Linked DNA regions of Homo sapiens. The protein of the gene in region 1 interacts with the protein of each later gene in a biochemical or structural test. Each region holds a gene or a part of one and is shown on either strand. Other genes may lie near its edges.

The links. The genes of interacting proteins can lie anywhere in the genome.
Region 2: of the proteins of RIPK1 (region 1) and OTUD1, one has a biochemical effect on the other in vitro, tested with the Homo sapiens proteins (2 studies listed by BioGRID).
Region 3: of the proteins of RIPK1 (region 1) and BIRC2, one has a biochemical effect on the other in vitro, tested with the Homo sapiens proteins (6 studies listed by BioGRID, with this or other methods).

The regions. Positions count from the first base shown.
Region 1 is NC_000006.12:3,106,486-3,113,511, reverse strand, and holds part of RIPK1 (receptor-interacting serine/threonine-protein kinase 1), read right to left. Parts: exon of another isoform or gene 6,721-7,026; intron 5,711-6,720; exon of another isoform or gene 5,615-5,710; intron 4,211-5,614; exon of another isoform or gene 4,116-4,210; intron 2,710-4,115; coding exon 2,557-2,709; intron 460-2,556; coding exon 173-459; 3' UTR 1-172. UniProt on the Homo sapiens protein: Serine-threonine kinase which is a key regulator of TNF-mediated apoptosis, necroptosis and inflammatory pathways.
Region 2 is NC_000010.11:23,434,949-23,442,075, reverse strand, and holds the start of OTUD1 (OTU domain-containing protein 1), read right to left. Parts: upstream 3,002-7,127; 5' UTR 2,619-3,001; coding exon 1,173-2,618; 3' UTR 1-1,172. UniProt on the Homo sapiens protein: Deubiquitinating enzyme that specifically hydrolyzes 'Lys-63'-linked polyubiquitin to monoubiquitin.
Region 3 is NC_000011.10:102,357,189-102,364,214, reverse strand, and holds part of BIRC2 (baculoviral IAP repeat-containing protein 2), read right to left. Parts: intron 1,320-7,026; coding exon 1,241-1,319; intron 548-1,240; coding exon 499-547; intron 1-498. UniProt on the Homo sapiens protein: Multi-functional protein which regulates not only caspases and apoptosis, but also modulates inflammatory signaling and immunity, mitogenic kinase signaling, and cell proliferation, as well as cell invasion and metastasis.

The sequences.
Region 1 (7,026 bases):
TGCTGCAGATTTCTTTCCCCATTCTCCAGCTATGAAGTACAGGAAACAAAATTTCTGCAGACACAGAACCCCTATCAGTGAGGACAGAATTCTGAATGCTCTGAGGCAGCCAACTTTCTGGGGTTATCCACTAAGTGAGGCGTCCACTTCAGCTGCCGTAGCCCATCCAGGGTTAGTTCTGGCTGACGTAAATCAAGCTGCTCAGAAGGTCGATCCTGGAACACTGGTGGAGCGCCTGGGCCAGCTTCCCCACCGTGGCTCCCTTTATGCCTTCCCTCATCACCCACTTTTGGAGCATCTGGTAAACCTTTTCTTTCAGTCCATCTCGCTCATAGTCATGGTCAATTTCATCAATCTGAGACTGTGTGAAGCCCAGTTTACGGGCACAGTTTTTCCAGTGCTTTCCCAGATTTTCCCTGATTGGGTCCAGGTGTTTATCCGTCAGACTAGTGGTATTATCTGCCAAATGGGAAAAAGAAGAAGGTATCAAGCTAAAACCCATTCAAACATTCCAGCTTCCTGAATTGCTAAAAAACCCAAGTGAAATGAAGAGTACCAGAAGACAGTGAAAAAGATAACTTCTTAGTTATATAGCTGTTGATGCACTGGCAGACATTTCACATGCCTGCTAGCCCACATGGAGTCTTTATGTGAATTAGAATAGGGCATTCCCGGCCTGGCGTGGTGGCTCATGCCTATAATCCCAACACTTTGGGAGGCCAAGGCAGGAGGATCACTTGAACCCGGGAGTTCTAGACCAGTCCTGGGCAACACAGCAAGAACCTGTCTCTACCAAAAAAAAAATTTTTTTTAATTAGCTGGGTATGGTGGCACATGCCTGTAGTCCCAGTTACTGAGGAGGCTGAGACAGGAGGATCACTTGAACTCAGGAGTTCGAGGCTGCAGTGAGCCATGACTGTGCCCCTGTACTTCAGCCTGGGCCACAGAGCAGGATGTTGTCTCAAAAACAAAACAAAAAAGAATAAGGCATTCCTTCCTCCTAGTAGACACATCCCTGAGCCACAGCTGATGGCTCTGTGAACAAAACCCCTGTGTGGCTACGAGGTTGGGTGTTCTAGTCAATCTTAGCCAGTGATCCTGTTGGTATTAGACCTTCCTGGGTGTAAAGGGAAAACCACCATTTTTGTTCCTTTTAGACATTCTCCGCTTACATCTGGCCAGAGTTAAAGCCGCTCAACTCCTGACCACCACCCCGGCCCAACAGTTCACTTTCCTCTTACTTAATCAAGGAATTGTCCAGCAGGCGTGAACCCATTCAGTTACAAAGCCTTCCTTGTCTTTCAAGCGACGAGGTAACTATACTCTTCAAGGTCTGTTTTTGGACCCTAACCCCTCCTTTACTCCACCCCACTGCCGACCGACATTGCCTCTTCTCCAATAGCCATAACCTCTCTCCTTCTACTGGTTCCTTCCCTTCGCCCTTCATAAAAATAATAAAAGGAAACAAATGAAAATGTACAACAACCACAACAAAAAAAATTCCTTAATCCCCACACTACCTCATTAAACAGAATATAAGGAAGAAAACATTTCATTCTTCCTTCCCACCTCTCTTCTTTCCTCAGCCCTCTGTGATGTGGCTCTCTCTCTATCCATATCTTATAGATTGTCAGCAGTCCAAGAACTTCCCAAGATATTTTCCAAATTTTGTCAATATTTCTGTAGGGGGTAGATCCTGGGTTTCATTAGATTCTCACAGGTGCCCCTGACCATTCGCAAGTTCTGTTCTAGGTATTTTAAAAGCTGTCCTTCAAATGGGTTAGACCAGGGGTTGGCCAACTATGGCCTGTGGGCCAAATCTGACTCCTGCCAGCATTTGTAAATCCACTTTTATTGGAACACAGCCGTGCTCATTCATGTACATATTGTCTGTGGTTGCTTTTGCACTACAATAAGAGAGGTGAGTAGTTCCAAGAGACCTCAAAGCCAGCAGGGCCTAACATTTACTATTGGTTCCTTTACAGAAAAAAAAAAAAAAAGCGCCAATCCCATGGTTAATTAGAAAGCTGAGTTCTTAATCAAGTCGTTTTGGCCTCATGACTTTTTCCAGACTGTACTTTGGGATTAGCATTATGGGCTGCACCATAGAACCCTATAAGAGATAGCCCTCTTGATTTTATTACAGAAGTGCTGTGGAGGGCACAGTCTTCTATCTTTTACAGGATCTCCTTCGATGAGGGCCTGACACAGCTATTTCTTCTGGGTCTGAGAAGTAATACTGATGATGATGATGATGAAAGTTTAACACTTTTTATAGAACTTACTATGTGCCAGGCAGTGTTCTAAGCTTTTTATACATATCAACTCATTTAATTTTCACAACAAATCCATAAATTAAATACTGTGATTATCTCCATATTAAAAATAAATAAATGACAAAGGAATTATATGGAAATTACAAAGATATTTTGCAGAAGTAACATAAGAAAACTTTCAAGAAGAATTATCAGAGAAATTTTAAGATTCCACTATGTCCTTCTCACAAGTAAGAAAGTTCAAGGTTGCTAGGCGTTGAGTCCTTCCAGGGTATCTTACCAAAGATAGCTTGGTACTTAGCAGCTGGCTCTTCTTTGAAGTTCGTATTTGTGCTGTCTAGTAGTGATGAACTCGTCCCACCAATCTCCATATAATTGTAGGCTCCAATCTGAATGCCAGTACTATTGTATATGGTATATTTTATAGATTCATCTGCATAGAGAGAAACACACAGGTAAGTAATTCTAGATCAAAAGCAAGAGAAAAAAATACAGCATGGCAAAAAAGCAGGGCTTTATGCCAAACATTAAGTTAATTATCCTATGCCACCCTTTAAACTTTTCTTCTTTCAAATCTGGCTAAACCACCTCATACCCATTAGGATGCCTATGATTAAAAAAAAAAAAAGAAATAACACATATTGACAAAGATGTGGAAAAAATGAAGCCCTTGTGCACTGCTGGTGGGAATGTGAAATGGTGCAGCTGCTCCTATAAAGAGTATAGTGGGCCAGGTGCGGTGGCTCACACCTGTAATCCCAGCACTTTGGGAGGCTGATGCAGGTGATCACCTGAGGTCAGGAGTTCAAGACCAGCCTGGCCAACATGGTGAAACCCCTTCTCTACTAAAAATACAAAAATTAGCCAGGCGTGGTGGTGGGTGCCTGTAATCCCAGCTACTCAGGAGGCTGAGGCAGGAGAATCACTTGAACCCAGGAGGCGGAGCTTGCAGAGTGAGCCAAGATCGTGCCACTGCACTCCAGCCTGGTGATAGAGTGAGAGTCTGTCTCAAAAAAAAAAAAAAAAAAAAATCGTGATTCTTCAAAAAAATTAAAGATAGAATTACCATATGATCCAGCAATTCCGTTTCTGAGTATATACCCAAAAGAACTAAAACAGGGTGTTGAAGAAATATTTCTACCCACGTGTTCACTGCAGCATTATTCACAATAGCTAAAAGGTGGAAGTAAGCCAGGCACCCATGAGCAGATGAGTGGATAACCCAACTGTGGTCTAGCTACACAATGGAATAGTCAGCCTTGAAAAGGAAGGGAATCACATCACATGCTACAACATGCATGAAGCTTGAGGACATTTCCTAAGTGAATGAAGCCAGCCACAAAGAAAAATGCTGCATGGTTCCACTCACATGAGGTACCTAGACTGGTCAGAGTCACAGAAACAGAGAGTAGAATGGTGGTTGTCCGGGGCTGGGAGGGGAGCTGGGGAGTTGGTGTTTAATGGATACAGAGTTTTAGTTTTGCAAGATTAAAACAGTTATATAGATAGATGGTGGTGATGGTTGCATAACACTGTGAATGTTAGATAATGCCACTGTAAAAATGGTTGAAATGGTAAATTTTATGTTTTTGAATTTTACCATAAAAAAATGTGGCTAACACCAAGTCAGAAAACAGAAGTGGATGAACAACACAGCAAAGCTCAGCCACACTTCCCAGCGGGATCCCACGACTCTGAACAGCATCTGTGAAGGGTCCTCCTCCTTTACCTGATAAACTCAAACCTCTCAGGTTCAGTATTCAGAAGCTAGCCACAGCTCTGCCCTACCCTCTTGTCTCTGATCTTCCTTTCACTGTTTCCTCCCTGTCTCCACTCCAGAGACTCCAGTCCCACCAGATTTCCCACCGATCTGCTGACATGATGCTCCTGCCTCTGCCTGGACTGCTGACCTCCCCACGTGCTTCTCCCTGCTTGTGAGTTTCTGACATAGGCCCAGCACAAATTCCACCTCCTTCCATGAGCCTGCACTGTAATCCTAGACTCAGCACTCTGCCCTGCGCCGCTCTGTATCTGAGCTGGGTCTGTTTGACTTCTCCACTAGAATGTGAGTCCCAAGGGCAGCGACCACACCCACTTGTTTTTGTACTCCTTACACTCGCTAGCCTGGGCCTTGGTACGGGGCATGGGCTCAATGACATTCATGCTGAGCTGAATTTGTCAAGTGTTGGTACTGTCCCTAAAGAGCACTTGGCATATCTTTGTAGGAGAGAGAAGGTGGTTGAGAAGACAGTTCTGAGGAGGGAGGGAAATGAGTATCAGCTCAAGGTACCTCCGTCAGCACACCTGGCCCTAAGGTAGGCCACCCTCTGGACCAGGCACTGTGCTCATTTGTTACATTTTCTCTGAGGAAGCCAAGGAAACTAGGGACCCTCTCTACTGAAAGGTGTAAGAAATATAGGATGTGCACACACACGCCATCTGTGTGCAATTCAGGGTGTTCGTGAAGCTGCTGAAACTGGGGTCCTTGGAATCCTAGCAAGGAACCCCTGTGACAGTCTCTGAGGTGCCTTCCAGTGCTCAAGGCTGTCTAGGTGTTCTTTGCTGACAATGATAATAACAGTGCTAATAACAGCAGCTACCGTTTACTGAGCACTTACTCTGCGCATCGCCAGGCACAGTGGTAAGCTGCCTTACCCTGTTTAATCCTCCTGGCCCACCACCTCCAGCTTACACTGACACCGTGTTCGTCACTCACAGTCTGCGCTCACCGCGGGCTTACATGGAGGTTTATTTACCCTGCACCTCTCTACTTGGAAATCTGTGTTCTTGAATCAGTGCTTTCTGCCCAAATCTGACCACTGGAAAAACCATGAAAGTTACGAAGTGGAGAAACGAATGCAATACTAGAAACATACTAGAGCTGATAATATATAAATTTTCAGTTGTAACATTTTCATTTATAATTGAGGAGAATGAACTCTGGAGAGGCAAATGACTTTCCCAAAGTCACCCATATAGTGACCGGCACAAGCAGGACTAGACCTGGGTCTCCTGACTCTTAGCCCAGTGAGCTTTCCTTTTCTAACCTCACTTCAAGCAGCACAGTGAATAAAAAGCAGTGGGTCTAAGAGCTCTTTCACTGAAAGGAAGACATTTATTTTCCTTTTGTACTTACTGCATACACACCCTTCTTCTATGGTATGGCAAATTAGAAAACTCATATTTTGGTATAGAGTTAGGACTTTTTGATGATAAAAGCAAGCAGAAGACTTATTTAAATTTGCAAGGAGAAACTCAGCGTGTTCATTTACTAGCTTAGTACCTGGCAGGATCATCTTTGGGAGCAGAAACACAGAAAATTCTATTATCTATTGTAGATCCAAGCGCCCCTTTCCCACTGAAAGCATCTCAGAACCCTGAAGAAGCTGCATCCCTGTACATCTGTCACTGGCAGAACCAGGAACCAGAACGAGGTGAAAACACAAAGAGATTTCTGGCACTAAACGGGTGTATTTGGGTTGCTCATGTAGAAAAAAGATAAAAAATGACACATTAAATATTGGTTTAGGGTCTGCCTTCTGTCCACTAGGATTTAAACTGTGTGAGGGAAGGGACTCAGGCTGTTTGTTCAGTTATAGCTCCAGTGCCTGGAGAACTGCACGTCACAAAGTGGGAAGAGTTTTGGAATTTTTTTTTTTTTTTTTTTTTTTTTGCGACAGTCTCGCTCTGTCACCCAGGCTGGAGTGCAGTGGTGCAATCTCGGCTTACTGCAACCTCTGCCTCCCGGGTTCAAGTGATTCTCCTGCCTCACCCTCCCAAGTAGCTGGGATTACAGGCGCACGCCACTATGCCCAGCTTTTTTTTTTTTTTTTTTGTATTTTTAGTAGAGACGGGGTTTCACCGTGTTAGCCAGGATGGTCTCAATCTCCTGACCTCGTGATCTTCCCACCTCGGCCTCCCAAAGTGCTGGAATTACAGGCGTGAGCCACTGTGCCCAGCCAGTGGAATTTTTTTTTTTTTTTCGAGACACAATCTCACTCTGTTGCCCAGGCTGGAGTGCAGTGGCATGATCTCAGCTCACTGCAACGTCTGTCTCCAGGGTTCAAGTGATTCTCCTGCCTCAGCCTCCCTAGTAGCTGGGGCTAAAGGCATGCGCCACCACGCCTGGCTAATTTTTGTATTATTTAGTAGAGACAGGGTTTTACCATGTTAGCCAGGCTGGTCTCGAACTCCTGGCCTCAAGTGATCCACTCACCTCAGCCTCCCAAAGTGCTGAGATTACAGGCATAAGCCACCACACCTGGCCAACCATGGCCCCAGCTGAAATTTTTATTGACTTAATCATGAATGAATAAAATGATATGGCAATACTAATAAAAAATTTTATCCCCAACATGAAGGAAACAAAAGGACATTCTGCTCATAGGATTATACATGACTTGGATACTGCTTAATGTCTAATCCAATATTTTGCATTCTACAGATCTTATCATAAAACCTATGGAAGAAATCGAGGATGTTTGCATAGGACGTTTTTGGAGAATTTGGCCTTTTGAAAGAAAATGTAACTAAGCTCTGTGGTTCTGAAAGCTTCCTCTACCTGAGATGATTTCAAGATCTCCAGGACACCTGTGGGTATCATTGGTAGATGCTGTTCAGGTAGTTAAGGTGATGTTGGTGAGTATTATTTGATAAAAATGCTGGATATTACATTAACTCACTTCCATTCTAGACTGCCAGTAACTACTATCACCTACCTTTTACTTCACCTGATAGAGATATGGGAGTT
Region 2 (7,127 bases), on another chromosome or scaffold:
ATAAAAAAAGTACAAACTGCATTACTTAATAAATATGACTAAAAGTAGTTAAAGTGGCAATGAGATTGATTTTAAGTTGGAAACATTGTTTGACCCAGCAAACCATACAAGCTCTGTTTACAGACATTTCTACATCAATACAGGGCAATCCTATTTTGCCTTTTGAAAGAATGTAAAGAAATATTAAGACAGTGTTCTCCTGCTATAACTGCCAAGGTTGGCTCCAGACATTTATGCCATTAGTTTATAAATCTCTTAGCTGGATTCAAGAAGTTATATAAAGCAGGAGGCTTATCTTGTCACAGAGTTTTATACCATGTTAACATTCTCTTACAACAACGTGACAAATGTAAATAAAAACAACTGAGAGCACCAGACAATCTACTCTACACATCAACCAGGGTACAGAATAATCATTCTGCCATCAGCAAATATCAGACTTTCATTCAAGTAAGACCTGCTACTATCCCTTAAAAGAGGAAAAACAAAACAAAAACCAAAAAAAAAACACAAAAAAACACCTTCCCACAACCTTCCATTAAGTAATTTTCTTTAAAAGATTCGCCATTTCTAGAAAAATAATGACTTCCAAAACAACAGCTCTGTTTCATCAAAATGGAATGGGCCAAACATCTGGTAACAAGAATGCATCAATATCCATTTGAAATAATTATCTAAGAATTGTGAAATTCAAATTTCAACAACATAAAATAACTACCAAATCACAAACTCTGTTCAAAATAATACATTTCATATAAAGCACTTCTCTGGATTTACGCCTGAAAGCTGTTTGTCAAAATGGAACACGTCATAGATGAAGGTACACCAGTTTTTAAAAATGTTGTGCAAAAATACATTTTTATAGAAAATAGACTACCAGGAATGAACAAATTTACACTGTGAGAAATCAGCTTGCAAATTAAGTAATGCTCACTTTATACAGCAAATTATAAATAGCAGTAAAATCACCCAAAGCTATCATGAAACATCATTTAGGTGCCCAGCAACCTCCAGCTCTGAGAAAACATTCAAAAAGATGATTAAGGCATTACACCTACAGTAAAATCTACTAGCAAGTTTGAAAGTGCTATTACCCTGATTAAAGTTCATGTGATTCTCCAAACACAAGTTATATATGCAATTATTCCCAGGGTGTAAGGTTTTGAGACATTTCAAGAGCATGCATTTTGTTCAATATACATTTTAGACAAGGATATGGCCATAGATTTGGCAAGTTCTTCGTCGCGTTTCCTTTGCACTTGAGTTTGTTTGCACCAGTTGTCGTACTCTGGGTTAGGATAGGAGTGATCAAATACAGCATCATAGTGTCCGTTACTGAGCCAACTGAGCCAAATACTAGGCCTCAGGGAATCCTCTGGGCCCAAATAATGAATCATGGTAGACACCGTGGGACTCTCCAGCCTCCCTCCAGTAGTTAAATGGATATTCACATTCAGCATCTGCCCCATGGCCAGCAACTCCGGGTACCCGGCCCATGCCCCGTCTTGGGCAGCAGCGATGATAAACTCCCCCACGTCGCCCTCAATCAGGGGGCTGAAGTGGTCGAGATGGTCGGCGATGTAGTGCACCGTCTGCTCCCTCAACTCCCGGTGCAGGCTCTGGTCCCCATACACCGTCTTGCTGACAGCTCGGTAGAGGCAGTTGCCGTCTGGAATGATGTGGAATCGGTACTTATTCCTCTGCCGCAGATACTTGTCCTGCTTCTCCACCTCGGCCAGGTATAGGGCCAGCTTCTCGTCTCTGGGATCCGACCTGGAGACGATCACCGGCTCCGCCGCACTACTCGGGGCGGCCTCGATGCTCCCGGCGGGGGGTGCCTCGGCCTCTGGGTCGGGCCTCCGCGCCGCGTCCCCACCGGGCGCGTCGCAGCGATCGCCGCCCCTCTCCCAGCCCCTGGGGCCCCTCTCCGCCAAGTGCTCTTCGCCCCACGGACCGGGGCCGGGATCGGGGCTCCCCGGGGTCGCCGCGGGGCCTCGGTGCTTGGCGGCGGCCAGGGCCTGGCGGTGCTCGCTCAGTCGGAAGTTCCGATCGGGCCCCTCCCGTGTCGCGTCCAAGCCCGCGGGCTCGGGGCAGTCGGGCCGCAGCAGCTCCTCCAGGAGCCAGGCCGAGGAGCCCCGCCGCGGCGGGACCGGGGCTGCGGGCGCCGGGGCGAGCAGGAGGCAGCGGCCGCGCGGGGCAGCGGCGGAGCCCGCGGCGCCGGGAACGGGATCGGGCCCGTGCAGCAGGAGCCTGTCGGCGCCCAGGGCCCGCACGGTGATCTGTGCGGTGGACGTGTAGTGCGGCGGCAGCGGCGGCTTGCAGGACGCGCCGGGCGGGCCGGCGGCGGCGGAGGCGGGCGCGGCGGCCCCGGACACCACCTCGAAGCAGGAGGAGAAGGCGGGCATCTTGGCGGCGGGGACAGCGGCGGCTTCCCGGTGCTCGGCGGCCGCGGCGGGCTGGCACTCACCGGTCTCGGGCTCGGGCGCGGCGCCGGCGGCTCCCGGGGGCTGCAGCGAGACCTTGAAGGGGGTAGCGGCGGCGGGTGGCGCGGGGGCGGCGGCCGTGGGACCCGGGGCCCCGGCGGGGTAGTGGGTGCAGACGCTGCTGTAGAGCTGCATGTCCCTGCCCGCCGCTCGGCCCCTTATAGGCGCGGCGAGCCCCGGAGCGGGGGACACACCCTCCGGGCCCGGGGGAGGGGGCCGGCGGAGCGCGGTGACCCAACGGCCCCAGAATAGAGATGAGCGAAAGGCAGCCGGCCGCCGCGAGTCAGCAGCCGCGAATAGCGCCCGGGTCCCGGCCAAATTCCTGCTGCGCCACAGCGCAGGGGGGCGGGGACGGGACGCGAGCTCGACCCCTGCCGGTGCGCTCGGCCCGCAGACCCGGGGCGCCGCGCCCGCTGCAGCTGCTTCGGCCCGCGGCGGCCGCTGGGGACTCACGGAGGAAGCCGCCCGCCCCGTTGGAGCGCGTCCCGCCGGCGAGGAGGAGCGCGGTGCGCGCGGAGGCCCGGGAGGCGGGGCCGCGGTTGTTTACCTCAGGCCTCGCGGCCGCGTCACGTGGACTCACTGGAATGCGCGGCTCTTTGCGGCGCCCGATTCAGTCGCGCCTGCTCGCCCCGCCCACTCCGGCCCGCGCCCCGCCCCCTACCGCGCTCCGCCGACGTCACGGGCGTGGCCCTCGGCGCGCGAGCGCGCGCGGGCGGGGCGAGGCCGGGGGCGCGGAGGCCTGAGCAGTCCTGGGATCCTGGCTGGGCCTCCCGCCCACGTGACTCCCACGGACCGCTTCCCCCACCTGGGCACTGGGCACTGGTTTCTGCGCTGCGCCACTCTCCTCAGCGGCTGCAGTGGATGCTGCGGGATGGGAGCTGCTTGGGGCGAGTTAGCATGCTCGGAAAGCTTGCGTGGCAGGAAAGCTTCCGGCATGGGTGTGGAGAACGGAATGCTGCCTTAAAGTCTGTTTGGCCTCTGCTGGTCATGGGCTACCATCCCTGCTTGCATTCACTACTGCCTCTTTTCTTTTATCTTTTTAGAGATGGGGGTCTTACCTGTCTCCGAAGCTAGAGTGTAGTGGCGCAGTCCATAGCTCACTGCAGCCTTGACTTCCCGGGCTCAAGCGATCCTCCCGCCTCAACCTCCAGAGTAACTGGAAACCACAGGTGTGCACCACCGCACCCGGCTAATTTTCTTTCTTTCTTTCTTTCTTTTTTTTTAAGGCGAGGGTCTCACCACAGTTGCCCAGTCTGGTGTCGAACTACTGGCCTCAAGCTGTTTCCCGCCTCGACCTCCTAAAGTGTTGGGATTATGGGTCCTAGCCACCACTCGTGGAACCGCCGCGTCTTTTCCTTTTTTTTTTTTTCTTTTTCTTTTTGAGGCAAGGTCTTGCTCTGCCTTCCAGGCTGAGTGCAGTGGCGCCATCATGTCCCACTGCGACCTCGACCTCCAGGGCCCAAGTGATCCCCCTTCCTCAGCCTTGCCTTGGGCAGGGATTACAGGTGCCCAGCTAGTTTTACCACTGTGTCTTTTCTATGCATTTCCTTGGACTCACCGGTAAGGGTGAGTCCGCTAGTGGATTCTCTTGCCTTGCTAAGACAAAACCAACTTTGCACCTCTGACCTATGCCATTTGGCAAATATCTGGCTTGGGGGAAAGCAAGGAAGCCTTTTAGGCTTTTATAAACAAGCTTTCTCAGAATACCAAATGCAGTATCACTTAGGGCCCTTTGAGAATAGGTGTGAATGCTAGCCAGAGGTCAAAAGCGGTGGAGAAAGTCGTGACCTGCATTCCGGGGCAAGATAGACTATAGAAAATACTTCTACCGAGTCTTTTTGTAATACCCGCCTTTGTAAGGGAAAGCCAGAGGTAGTGGGAGACTTTTGCTATATTCTGAGCTGTGATCAAATGCTAAATTAACAGGGCCTAAACATTCGAATTGAACCCAGAGGTTGTCCTAACATTTTAGAGATAGGGAGACTGAACCTGTAGGTGATGTAGGCTGTACTCCGGTCCCCACCTTTCCGGTGGAATGTGAATTCCAGGAATTGAGAGACTTGGGTCTTGCTCTTATATTTCCATCCCCTAACACCGTGCTTGGCACATAATTGGACCTAATTAATATTTACTAAGTGAATGAGTAGATGGAAAGCGAGTTTCCAAGGTTTGTCAGACAGTGGTGAAGCCAAGATTACTATCCAGGTCCCTTGACCCTAGCCAGGGCTTTTAATTATCTTTGGGCAGTATGACTGGCAGGGTCCCAGCTCAGGTCACTCCAGCCGCTTATGTAAATTAACTCAGAAGAAGGTAAATGACTGTCTAACTTTTCAAATTCTGGTAACTACCCCATTGGGAGCTTGAAGCTCTCATGGCTAATTAGAAAAAGGAAATTACCATCCTTGGATTTCATCACTGATTTGTTGAGCATCTGTTGCTCTGTGCATGAAGCACTTCACGCTTAACTCTTTCATTAGCTGGTGTTCTGAAACAGAAGACAAGACTGTTAACAAGGCCGTCACCAAATAATATTTACCATACCCACCACGTGCCTGGCAGGACTAGCATAACTGGAGCCTGAAGGGAGATAAGGAAAATATTAGAATTTAAACCCTAAAGCAAGAGTAGATATTAACAGGTTGGGGTAAATGCAGAAAACAGCAACAACAACAACAAAACACTAGGTCCACAGAAGACACACTACCTCTGATGTACCAAGTTAGCAGCAGACAAAAACAAAGAGGTGAAGATTTGAAACATTAACATATGAATGCATTTTTAAAAATCTTTTTAGTTTGTCTGGGGGCAGTGGACTATGCAAGACTGTGTATTGGCAGTAGGAATCCTTGTCCACTCTGTATCTCAATGTGGAAAGGCTTCCTGGAGGAGGTGGTACTTCAGGAAACCTTCAAAGCAGAAATGATAGCAGCTTTGGAACTGGATGTTGTTTTTGGCCCTTGGAAGCTAAGAGAAGACAAGGCCTTGCAGGTGACAGCAAAGAGATTAGGGAGGCAAATCTGATTTCTCGTGAGTTCAAATAATTATCTATAATGTAATTATGTAATTAAAATTAATATGCATGAAAATTGCTACATGATCAGAACGATTGAAGAGTATAAGTTTTCAGGAAGTGAGTTGTTTTTATTCTGATGGTTTCCGTGACTGTTTTCCCTTCCTCAACTGTAAGCTCCTCAGAAGGATCCCAAAACTTAGCATAGAATAACTTGTAACGTTTTTGCTATATACTGTATATTAAAACATGGGAAGACTATAAATGTGATTTTTTAAAAAAAACTGTGCAAAGAAGCTGAATCCTGTGTCTTTAGATAAACATTAAATACATCCAATTAAGCTAGAAAAAACAATTCCTAGGCTAGGAGCCATGGCTCATGCATATAATCCCAGTACTTTGGGAAGCTGAGGCAGGAGGATCACTTGACCCCTGGAGTTTAAGAGCAGCCGAGGCAACATAGCAAGACCCTGTCTCTACAAAAAATAAAAAATAAAAGAATTAGCCTGGCATGGTGGCACATGCCTGTAGTCCCAGCTTCCTGGAAGGCTGAGGGGGAATAATTGCTTGAGCTCAAGAGTTTGAGGTTGCAGAGAGCCATGACCACACAATTGCACTTTAGCCTGGGTGACAGAATGAGGCCCTGTATCAAGGGAAAAAAAAGAAAAGACAGACAGACAGTAGCAAGTGTTGGAGAAAATGTGAAGTTAAAATCTTCATACGTTGCCTGTGAGATTGTAAAATGACGCAGATACTTTTTAAACAGCTTAGCAGTTCCTCAAAATGTTACACATAGAGTTAACCATATGATCCAGTAATTCCACTTCTAGGTATATAACCAAGAAAAATAAGAACATATCTCCATACAAAAACTTGTATATCAATATTCATAGTAGTAGTATTCATAATATCCAAAGAGTAAAAACTACCCACATATCCATCAAATGATGAATGGATAAACCAAGTGTGATACATTCAGACAATGGAATATTATTCAGCCATGAACAAAATGAAGACACATGCTACAATATGGATGAATCTTCAAAACAGGCTAAGTGAAGAAAGCCAGATGCAAAAGGTCACATACTGTATAATTCCAGTTATATGAAATGTCTAGAATAGAGAATAGGCTGAGGTGAGGAGGGAATGTGGAGTGACTGCCAAAGGGCGTGGGTTTCTTTTGGAGTGATCAAAATGGTTTGAAAATAGCTTATGGCTGTTCGAGGGGCTCATGCTTATAATCCCAGCACTTTGGAAGGCCAGGGTGGGTAGATCACTTGAGTGCAGTAGTTTGAGACCAGCCTGGGGAACATGGCAAAACCCCATCCCTACAAAAAATACAAAAGTTAGCCAGGCATTGTGGCACACACCTGTAATCCCAGATGCTTGGGAGGCTGAGTTGGGAGGATCCACTGATGCTGGGAGTTTGAGGCTGCAGTGAGCTGTGATTGTGCCACTGCACTCCAGCCTGGGTGACAGAGGAGACCCTATCTCAACAAAAAAAGAGAGAAAGAAAGAAAAAAGAAAATGGGTTATGGCAGGGCAAGGTGGTTTATGCTTGTAATCCCAGCACTTTGGGAGGCTGAGGCAGGAGAATCACTTGAGCCCAGGAGTTTGAGACCAGCCTGGGCAAC
Region 3 (7,026 bases), on another chromosome or scaffold:
CTCTCTCTCTCTCTCTCTCTCTCTCTCTGTGTGTGTGTGTATATATATATATATATATATATATATATATATATAATATTTATTAGCTGACTTCCCAGTATTTTTCCCTATGGCTTCAGAAACTCTTTTAAAAAATACATACTTTCATTCCTACCTTTTTTTTTGGAGATGGAGTTTCGCTCTGTTGCCCAGGATGGAGTGCAATGGCATAATCTCAGTTCACTGCAACCTCCACCTCCTGGGTTCAAGCAATTCTCCTGCCTCAGCCTCCCGAGTAGCTGAGACTACAGGCACATCACACCCGGCTAAGTTTTGTATTTTTAGTAGATGGAGTTTTACTATGTTGGCCAGGCTGGTCTCGAACTCCTGACCTCAGGTGATCTGTCAACCTCGGCCTCTCAAAGTGTTGGGATTACAGGCATGAGCCACTGCACCCAGCCTATTCCTAAAATTCTTATAAAAATTTACACTCTATACTTAAAATTATCTCATACATACTTGGTGGGTCAGCATTTTCTTCTCCAGTGGTATCTGAAGTTGACAACAGCTATGAAACAAGAGAAAAGTTAATAGGTAAAAGCAGATATCCCCAACAATCTGAAAAGAACAACACTAAAATAAGCTTACTTTAAGTAAATGTATATGTTCTTTTGAGAACTGAGTGATTTATGACCTTTGCTTTGCTTTCTTTTACCCTAATCACATAGATTTCCTTAAATTTCATGTCATCCCAAATTAGAAATCAAGTATTTCTCTAGTTTCAGGAAAGTAGAAAAATGTATCAGTGGTTTCTCATTTCATTTGGAAAATAAGATTTTAACTGGGTTACTCTCCAAGGGTCTCAGCTCCTAACAAGTTATTTTTTGTTTGTTTTTCTGGAAAACAGCAAAGAGACACTAAAGATCCTTCTCCAATCCCATCACAAATTTGTACAGTGGCAGCATAAATGATTTTTCAAAATAGTAAAAACAAAAAAACAATCTTTTTTAAAAAGCCCTCAAAAATCAAGTTGGTTACAAAAGTAAAAACCAAAGATGTCATTAACATGGATGAAAGTATGTACCTACAATTAATAAAAGAGAAATAAGCATAACTTCTAATATAGGTTGGTACAAAAGTGATCACGGTTTTGGCCATGACTTTCAATGGCAAAAATCATGATCACTTTTATACCAACCTAATAATATTTTTGTTATTATAAAGCAGAATTCAATGTTGTTAATTTTAAAAATGTATTTACCTGTTCAAGAAGATGAGGATATCTACCTTGAATCTCATCAACAAACTCTTGGCCTTTCATTCGTATCAAGAACTCACACCTAAAACATATGAGGAAAATTATTTTTTAAAATTGTTTCATATCAAATATAACCTGATCATTCTAGAAAAATGGCTTTCAAATCTTTCATTGTACTCCATAGTAAAAACATTTTACGTCACAACCCAGAACACATACATATCTAACAGGAACAAAATTATCATAAAACAATATACATCCTTCTGTGTGTTATATATCACGGTATTTTCTAATTCAATCCATTAACACAACAACAAAAAGAAAAGCGTCTGCACCTACAAAGGGGAACAAGTTGACTCCTGAAGAACACTATTATACACAATCTATTTTGTGCTTAAAGTGAACTACTTAACAGTTTCAGATACTATTAACTCAGTATTCCTAAAATGTGATCTTTCACAATACAATAACTGCTCATTTTTCTTCAATGTTCACTCTTCCATTACATTTGAGCCAGAATCCACTACCTTCCCTCCAAAAAATATGGAATCAAATATTTTTATCTATATATAATATGACAGTGTTTCTCAAATATTTGTTTTTAAACTGATAGGGCTTCTCAAAGATGTTCCAAGAAGTTCACATACCATCTATATCTATTCTATTCCTTTTGTTTCTTCAATAAATGATACTATACAACAGAATATTCATATGTTAAAAAAAAGGAACACTGACCTATGCCCATATTATATGCAAAAATAGTAAAAATGGATCATATACCTAAATATAAAACCAAAAACAATAAAACTTCTAGGAAAAAGCCTTGTCTTTATTTGTCTTTACATTGGGTAAAGAATTATTAGACAAAAGACCAAAAACATATTCCACAAAAGATAAAATTGATAAATTGACATCATCAAAATTGAAAACATCTGCTCTTCAAAAGACAATGTTAAAGAAATGAAAAGCCGCAGACTGAAAGTTTGCAAGAGTGACATCAGCAAGACAGCAGACTAGGAGACATCAGCCTTCTTCCACCCACAAAAAACAACAAACAGACAGCTATACACAAATACAGCTCTGGAAGAACTCACTAGCCCAATCAGCCTACAGCAATAAAGGGAAAAAAAAAAAAAAGGGAGAATAACCACACAGAAAGGACTGCTGGGAGATCTGCTTAGCAGAGACATCTGGAGATGGCTAAGAACAAGGGGTGAGGGCTACCTGTATCAGTCATGTGGTGAGTGCCATTACAGTCCTCAGTGGCAAAGACTGCTAGGCTCCTCCCCAGAGCAGGTCCCTGGAGACCTCCAATAACCCTCAAGATAGCCACAGACTTCCTGCAGGTTTCACAGTGAAGGACCCTATAGTGTTCATTGATGCCAACCCCAGTAGCCTACTTTGCAGAGGACACTGACAGCTTTCACCATTAAGGTAACCAGCACCCATTGCTGCTGTGAACCCCCTGGAGAGGGAGACACTACTGCACTCCTCACCCTGAAAAAAAGCAGCTCTTGCACTGCCCAGACAGTGCAGCCCCTAACCCCCACATATGCCCCAGACCCCAGAGCCACAGCTGCTTCACATGTACCTTCATGTAAGACCTTTGCTCTGTGGCTGCTCTAATCACACACTCTCCAGATCCCAGCTCTCTGGCTGCTCTGCACACCTGCACTCCGCACCCAACTCAAAGGCTGCTCTACGTGCACCCACATCTGAGGCACTAGAAGCACCACTGCTGCAGGCTAGTCAACATCCTGAACCCAAGACCCGCTGTCTTTCTGCAAACACTTGCACTCCAAACCTTGGCTCTGTAGCTGCTCCACAGGTGTCCACGCCATCAGAGACATCAGTGCTGCCACCTCCACCAACACAACAAGCCCAAAGCCAGAACCTGTGCCAAGAAGAATCCCCTTGGCCACAATGTCTCCCATGGGAGAAAAAGTGATGAAGAGGTCCCCAGCAGCCTCTGCCACTATAGACTAAAAAAAGCCTTGCTGCTGGTATGGATACCTGCAGCCTTGGATGTTGAGGACCCCTGCAATCCTCACTGACAATGATCTGGGCTAATGGAGCTGCATGGAGTTCACAATGCTGGGCCTTCCACAGAGCCAGAACCACCACACCTACTGGCTGGCGCCCTCACCCTCACCCTCACCCACAGGCAAAGATCTTTGCCCACAAAAAAAAAAACAAAAAAAACACACTAATCTGTAATGTCTAGAAGTAATTCGTCCATCAAATACACAGATAACACAAGGCCACAAGAAACAGAAAGAAAAAAAAAAAAAGAAACGTGACATTAGCAAAGAAACTCAGTAATTTTCCAGTAATCACCCACAAAGAAATGGAGATCTATGAACTAACAGATAAAGAATTCAAAATAATTGTTTCAAGCAAACTCAGTGAGCTACAAAAGAACACAGATAATGAAATAAAAAAATATATACAAACAAATGAGAAATTCAACACAGAGATAGGAATAATAAAAAGAAACAAATTCGGGAGCTGAAGAACATAACAACAAAAAATGCAATAGAGAGCATCAATAGCAGACCTGATCAAGCAGAAGAACCTGTGAACTCAAAGGCAGATCATGTGAAATTATCTAGTCAGAGGAGAAAAAAAGAAAAAAAAAAGAATAGTGGAGAAAGCCTACCTGAATTATAGGACACCATCAAGCAAAACAATATTTGCATTTTAAGAATTCAAGGCCAGGCACGATGGCTCACACCTGTAATCCAGCACTTTGGGAGGTTGAGGCGGGTGGATCACATGAAGTCAGGGGTTCAAGACCAGCCTGGCCAACATGGCAAAACCCCGTCTCTACTAAAAATACAAAAATTAGCTGGGCATGGTGGTGCACACCTGTAGTCCCAGCTACGTGGGAGGCTGAGGCAGGAGAATCACTTGAACCTGGGAGGTGGAGGTTGCAGTGAGCTGAGATCATGCCACTGCACTCCAGCCTGGGTGACAGAACAAGACACCATCAAAAAAAAAAACCCAAGAAAATGAAAAACAAACCCGAGAATTCAAGAAGGAAAAGAGAGAAAGGACAGAAAGCTGATTTAAAAAAAAAATGCTGAAAACTTCATAAATCTAGGGAAAGATATCCAGGTACAGGAAGTTCATAGGACCCCATAAAGATTCAACCCAAAGAAGACTTCACTGACACACATTATAATGAACTGGCAAAAATAGAAGATGAAAGAGAATTTTAAAACTGTAACAGAAAAGAAACTCATCTTCTACAAGAGAAACCCTATAAGACCACAAGTGGATTTCTCTGCAAAAACCTTGTAGGCCAGGAGAGAGTTGGATGATATATTCAAAGTGCTGAAAGACAAAACTACCAGACAAGAATATGTATCCCAGCAAAGCTGTCCTTCAGAAATGAAAGAGATATAAACAGTCCCAGACAAACAAAAGCTGAGGGAGTTTATCACCACTGGACGCGCCTTACAAGAAACGCTGAAGAGTTCTCCAAGCTGAAATGAAAGGACACTAATTAGCAACATGGAAACATATGAAAGTATGAAACTCACTGTTAAGATAAATATATAATCAAATTAATAATATACTAAATTTGTAATGGTCATGTGTAAATTACTTAATTCTAAAATACAGGTTTTTAAAAAAAAGTATTAAAAATAACTATAGCTTCAATAATTTTTTCATGAATACACAATATAAAATGCAAATAATGACATCAAAAACATAAAATATGTGCAGGAGGGTCTGAGTAACAGTACAGTTTTTTAATGCAATTGAAATTAAGTTGTTAGTGCTTGAAACAGACTACTATAACTATAAGATGTTCTATGTAAACCTCATGATAGCCACAAAGTAGAAACCAATAGTAGATGCACAAAAGATATAAAGGAATCAAAGCATACCACCACAGAAAATCATCTAAACACAAGGGAAGACAGCAAGAGAGGAAGAAACAAATAATCTGCCAAACAATCAGAAAACAATTACAAAATGACAGAAGTCTTTACCCATCAATAGTTACCTTGAATGTAAATGGGCCAAATTCTCCTATCAAAAGATAAAGAGCAGCTGAATGGATAAAGAAAACAAGATTCAGCTACAGGTTGTCTACAAGAGACTCAATTCACCTTTAAGCACATGCATGGGTATAGGAAAAAAGATATTCCATGCAAATGGAAACCAAAAGAGAGCAGAGGAAGCTAAAGTTTTATCAGATAGGGCAGACTTTACATCAAAAACTGTAAAAAGAGTCAGAGAAAGTAATTATATAATGAGAAAGGGGCCAATTCCACAAGAGGATACAGTATCTGTAAATATATATATGTACCCAACATCAGACCACCTAAATAAACAGAGAAAATATTAACAGATCTGAAGACATTAATAGATAGTAACACAATAATACTAGAAGACTTCAAAAATCCTACTTTCAATAATGGATGGGTCATCCAGACAGAAAATCAGTAAGGAAATATTGGACTTCAACTATACACTGGATCTAATGGATCTAACATACAGGTTGAATATTCCTTATCTGAAATGCTTGGGACTAGAAGTGTTTTGAATTTTACATTTTTTAGATTTGGGAATACCTGCCTTATGTTTACCAGCTGAGCATCCCTAATCCAAAAATGCAAAACCAAAAATGTTCCAAAGAGCATTTCCTTTCAGCATCATGTTGGTACTCAAAAAGTTTTAAATTTTGGAACATTTTGGATTTTGGATTTTTGGATTGGGGATACTCAACCTTTATACAGAACATTCCATCAAACAGCAGATAATACACATTCTTCTTAAGCACACAAGAAAAATTATCCAGCGTAGATCATGCAGCAGGTCACAAAACAAGACTCAACAAACTGAGGAAGACTGAAATCCTATCAAGTATCTTTTCAGACCACAATGGTATGTAACCAGAAATCAATAACAGAATGAAAGTTGGAAAGCTGACAACTATGTGGAAATTGAACAAAATACTCCTGAATAATCAATGGGTCAAAGAAGAAATCAAAAAGAAAATTTTAAAAAATCACAAGAAATATTAAAATTGAAATGCGACATAGCAAAATGTATAGAACAAATGCAGTTCTAAAAGGAAAGTTTATAGCAATAATCGCCTATATTTAAAAAAAATCTTAAATAAACACCGTAATTTTACATCTAAAGGAACTAGAAAAAGTTAGCAGAAGGAAATAACAAAATCTCATGAAATAGAGACTACAAAAACAATAGAAAAGACCACTAAAACTAAGAGCTGGATTTTGAAAAGATAAGTAAAATCAACAAAGCTTTAGTTTGACTAGTAAAAAGGAAGACGAAAATAAATAAAATCAAAACCAAGAGATGTTACCATTGATAACACAGAAACGCAAATGACCATAAGAGACTACCATGAACAATTATTCACCAAAAAACTGTATAACCTAGAAGAAATGGATGCATTCCTAGAAACTTGTAATTTATCAAGACTAAAATAAAGAAGAAATAGAAGATCTGAAAAGACTTATAACTAGTAAGGAGATTGAATCAGTAGTCATAACTCTTCTGACAAAGAAAAAGCCCAGGAACAGATGACCTCATAGCACAGTTCTATCAAGAAGAAGAAAGAAGAAGAAAGGAAGAGGAGGAGAAGAAGGAAGAGGAGGAGGAGGAGGAAAGAAGGAGGAAGAAGAAAGAAAAGGGAGGAGGAGGAAGAAGGAAGAAGAGGGAGGGAAGAGGGAGTAAGGAGGGAGGAGGGGGGAATACTTCCAAACTCATTTTATGAAGCCAAGCATTACTCTGATACCAAAGCCAGA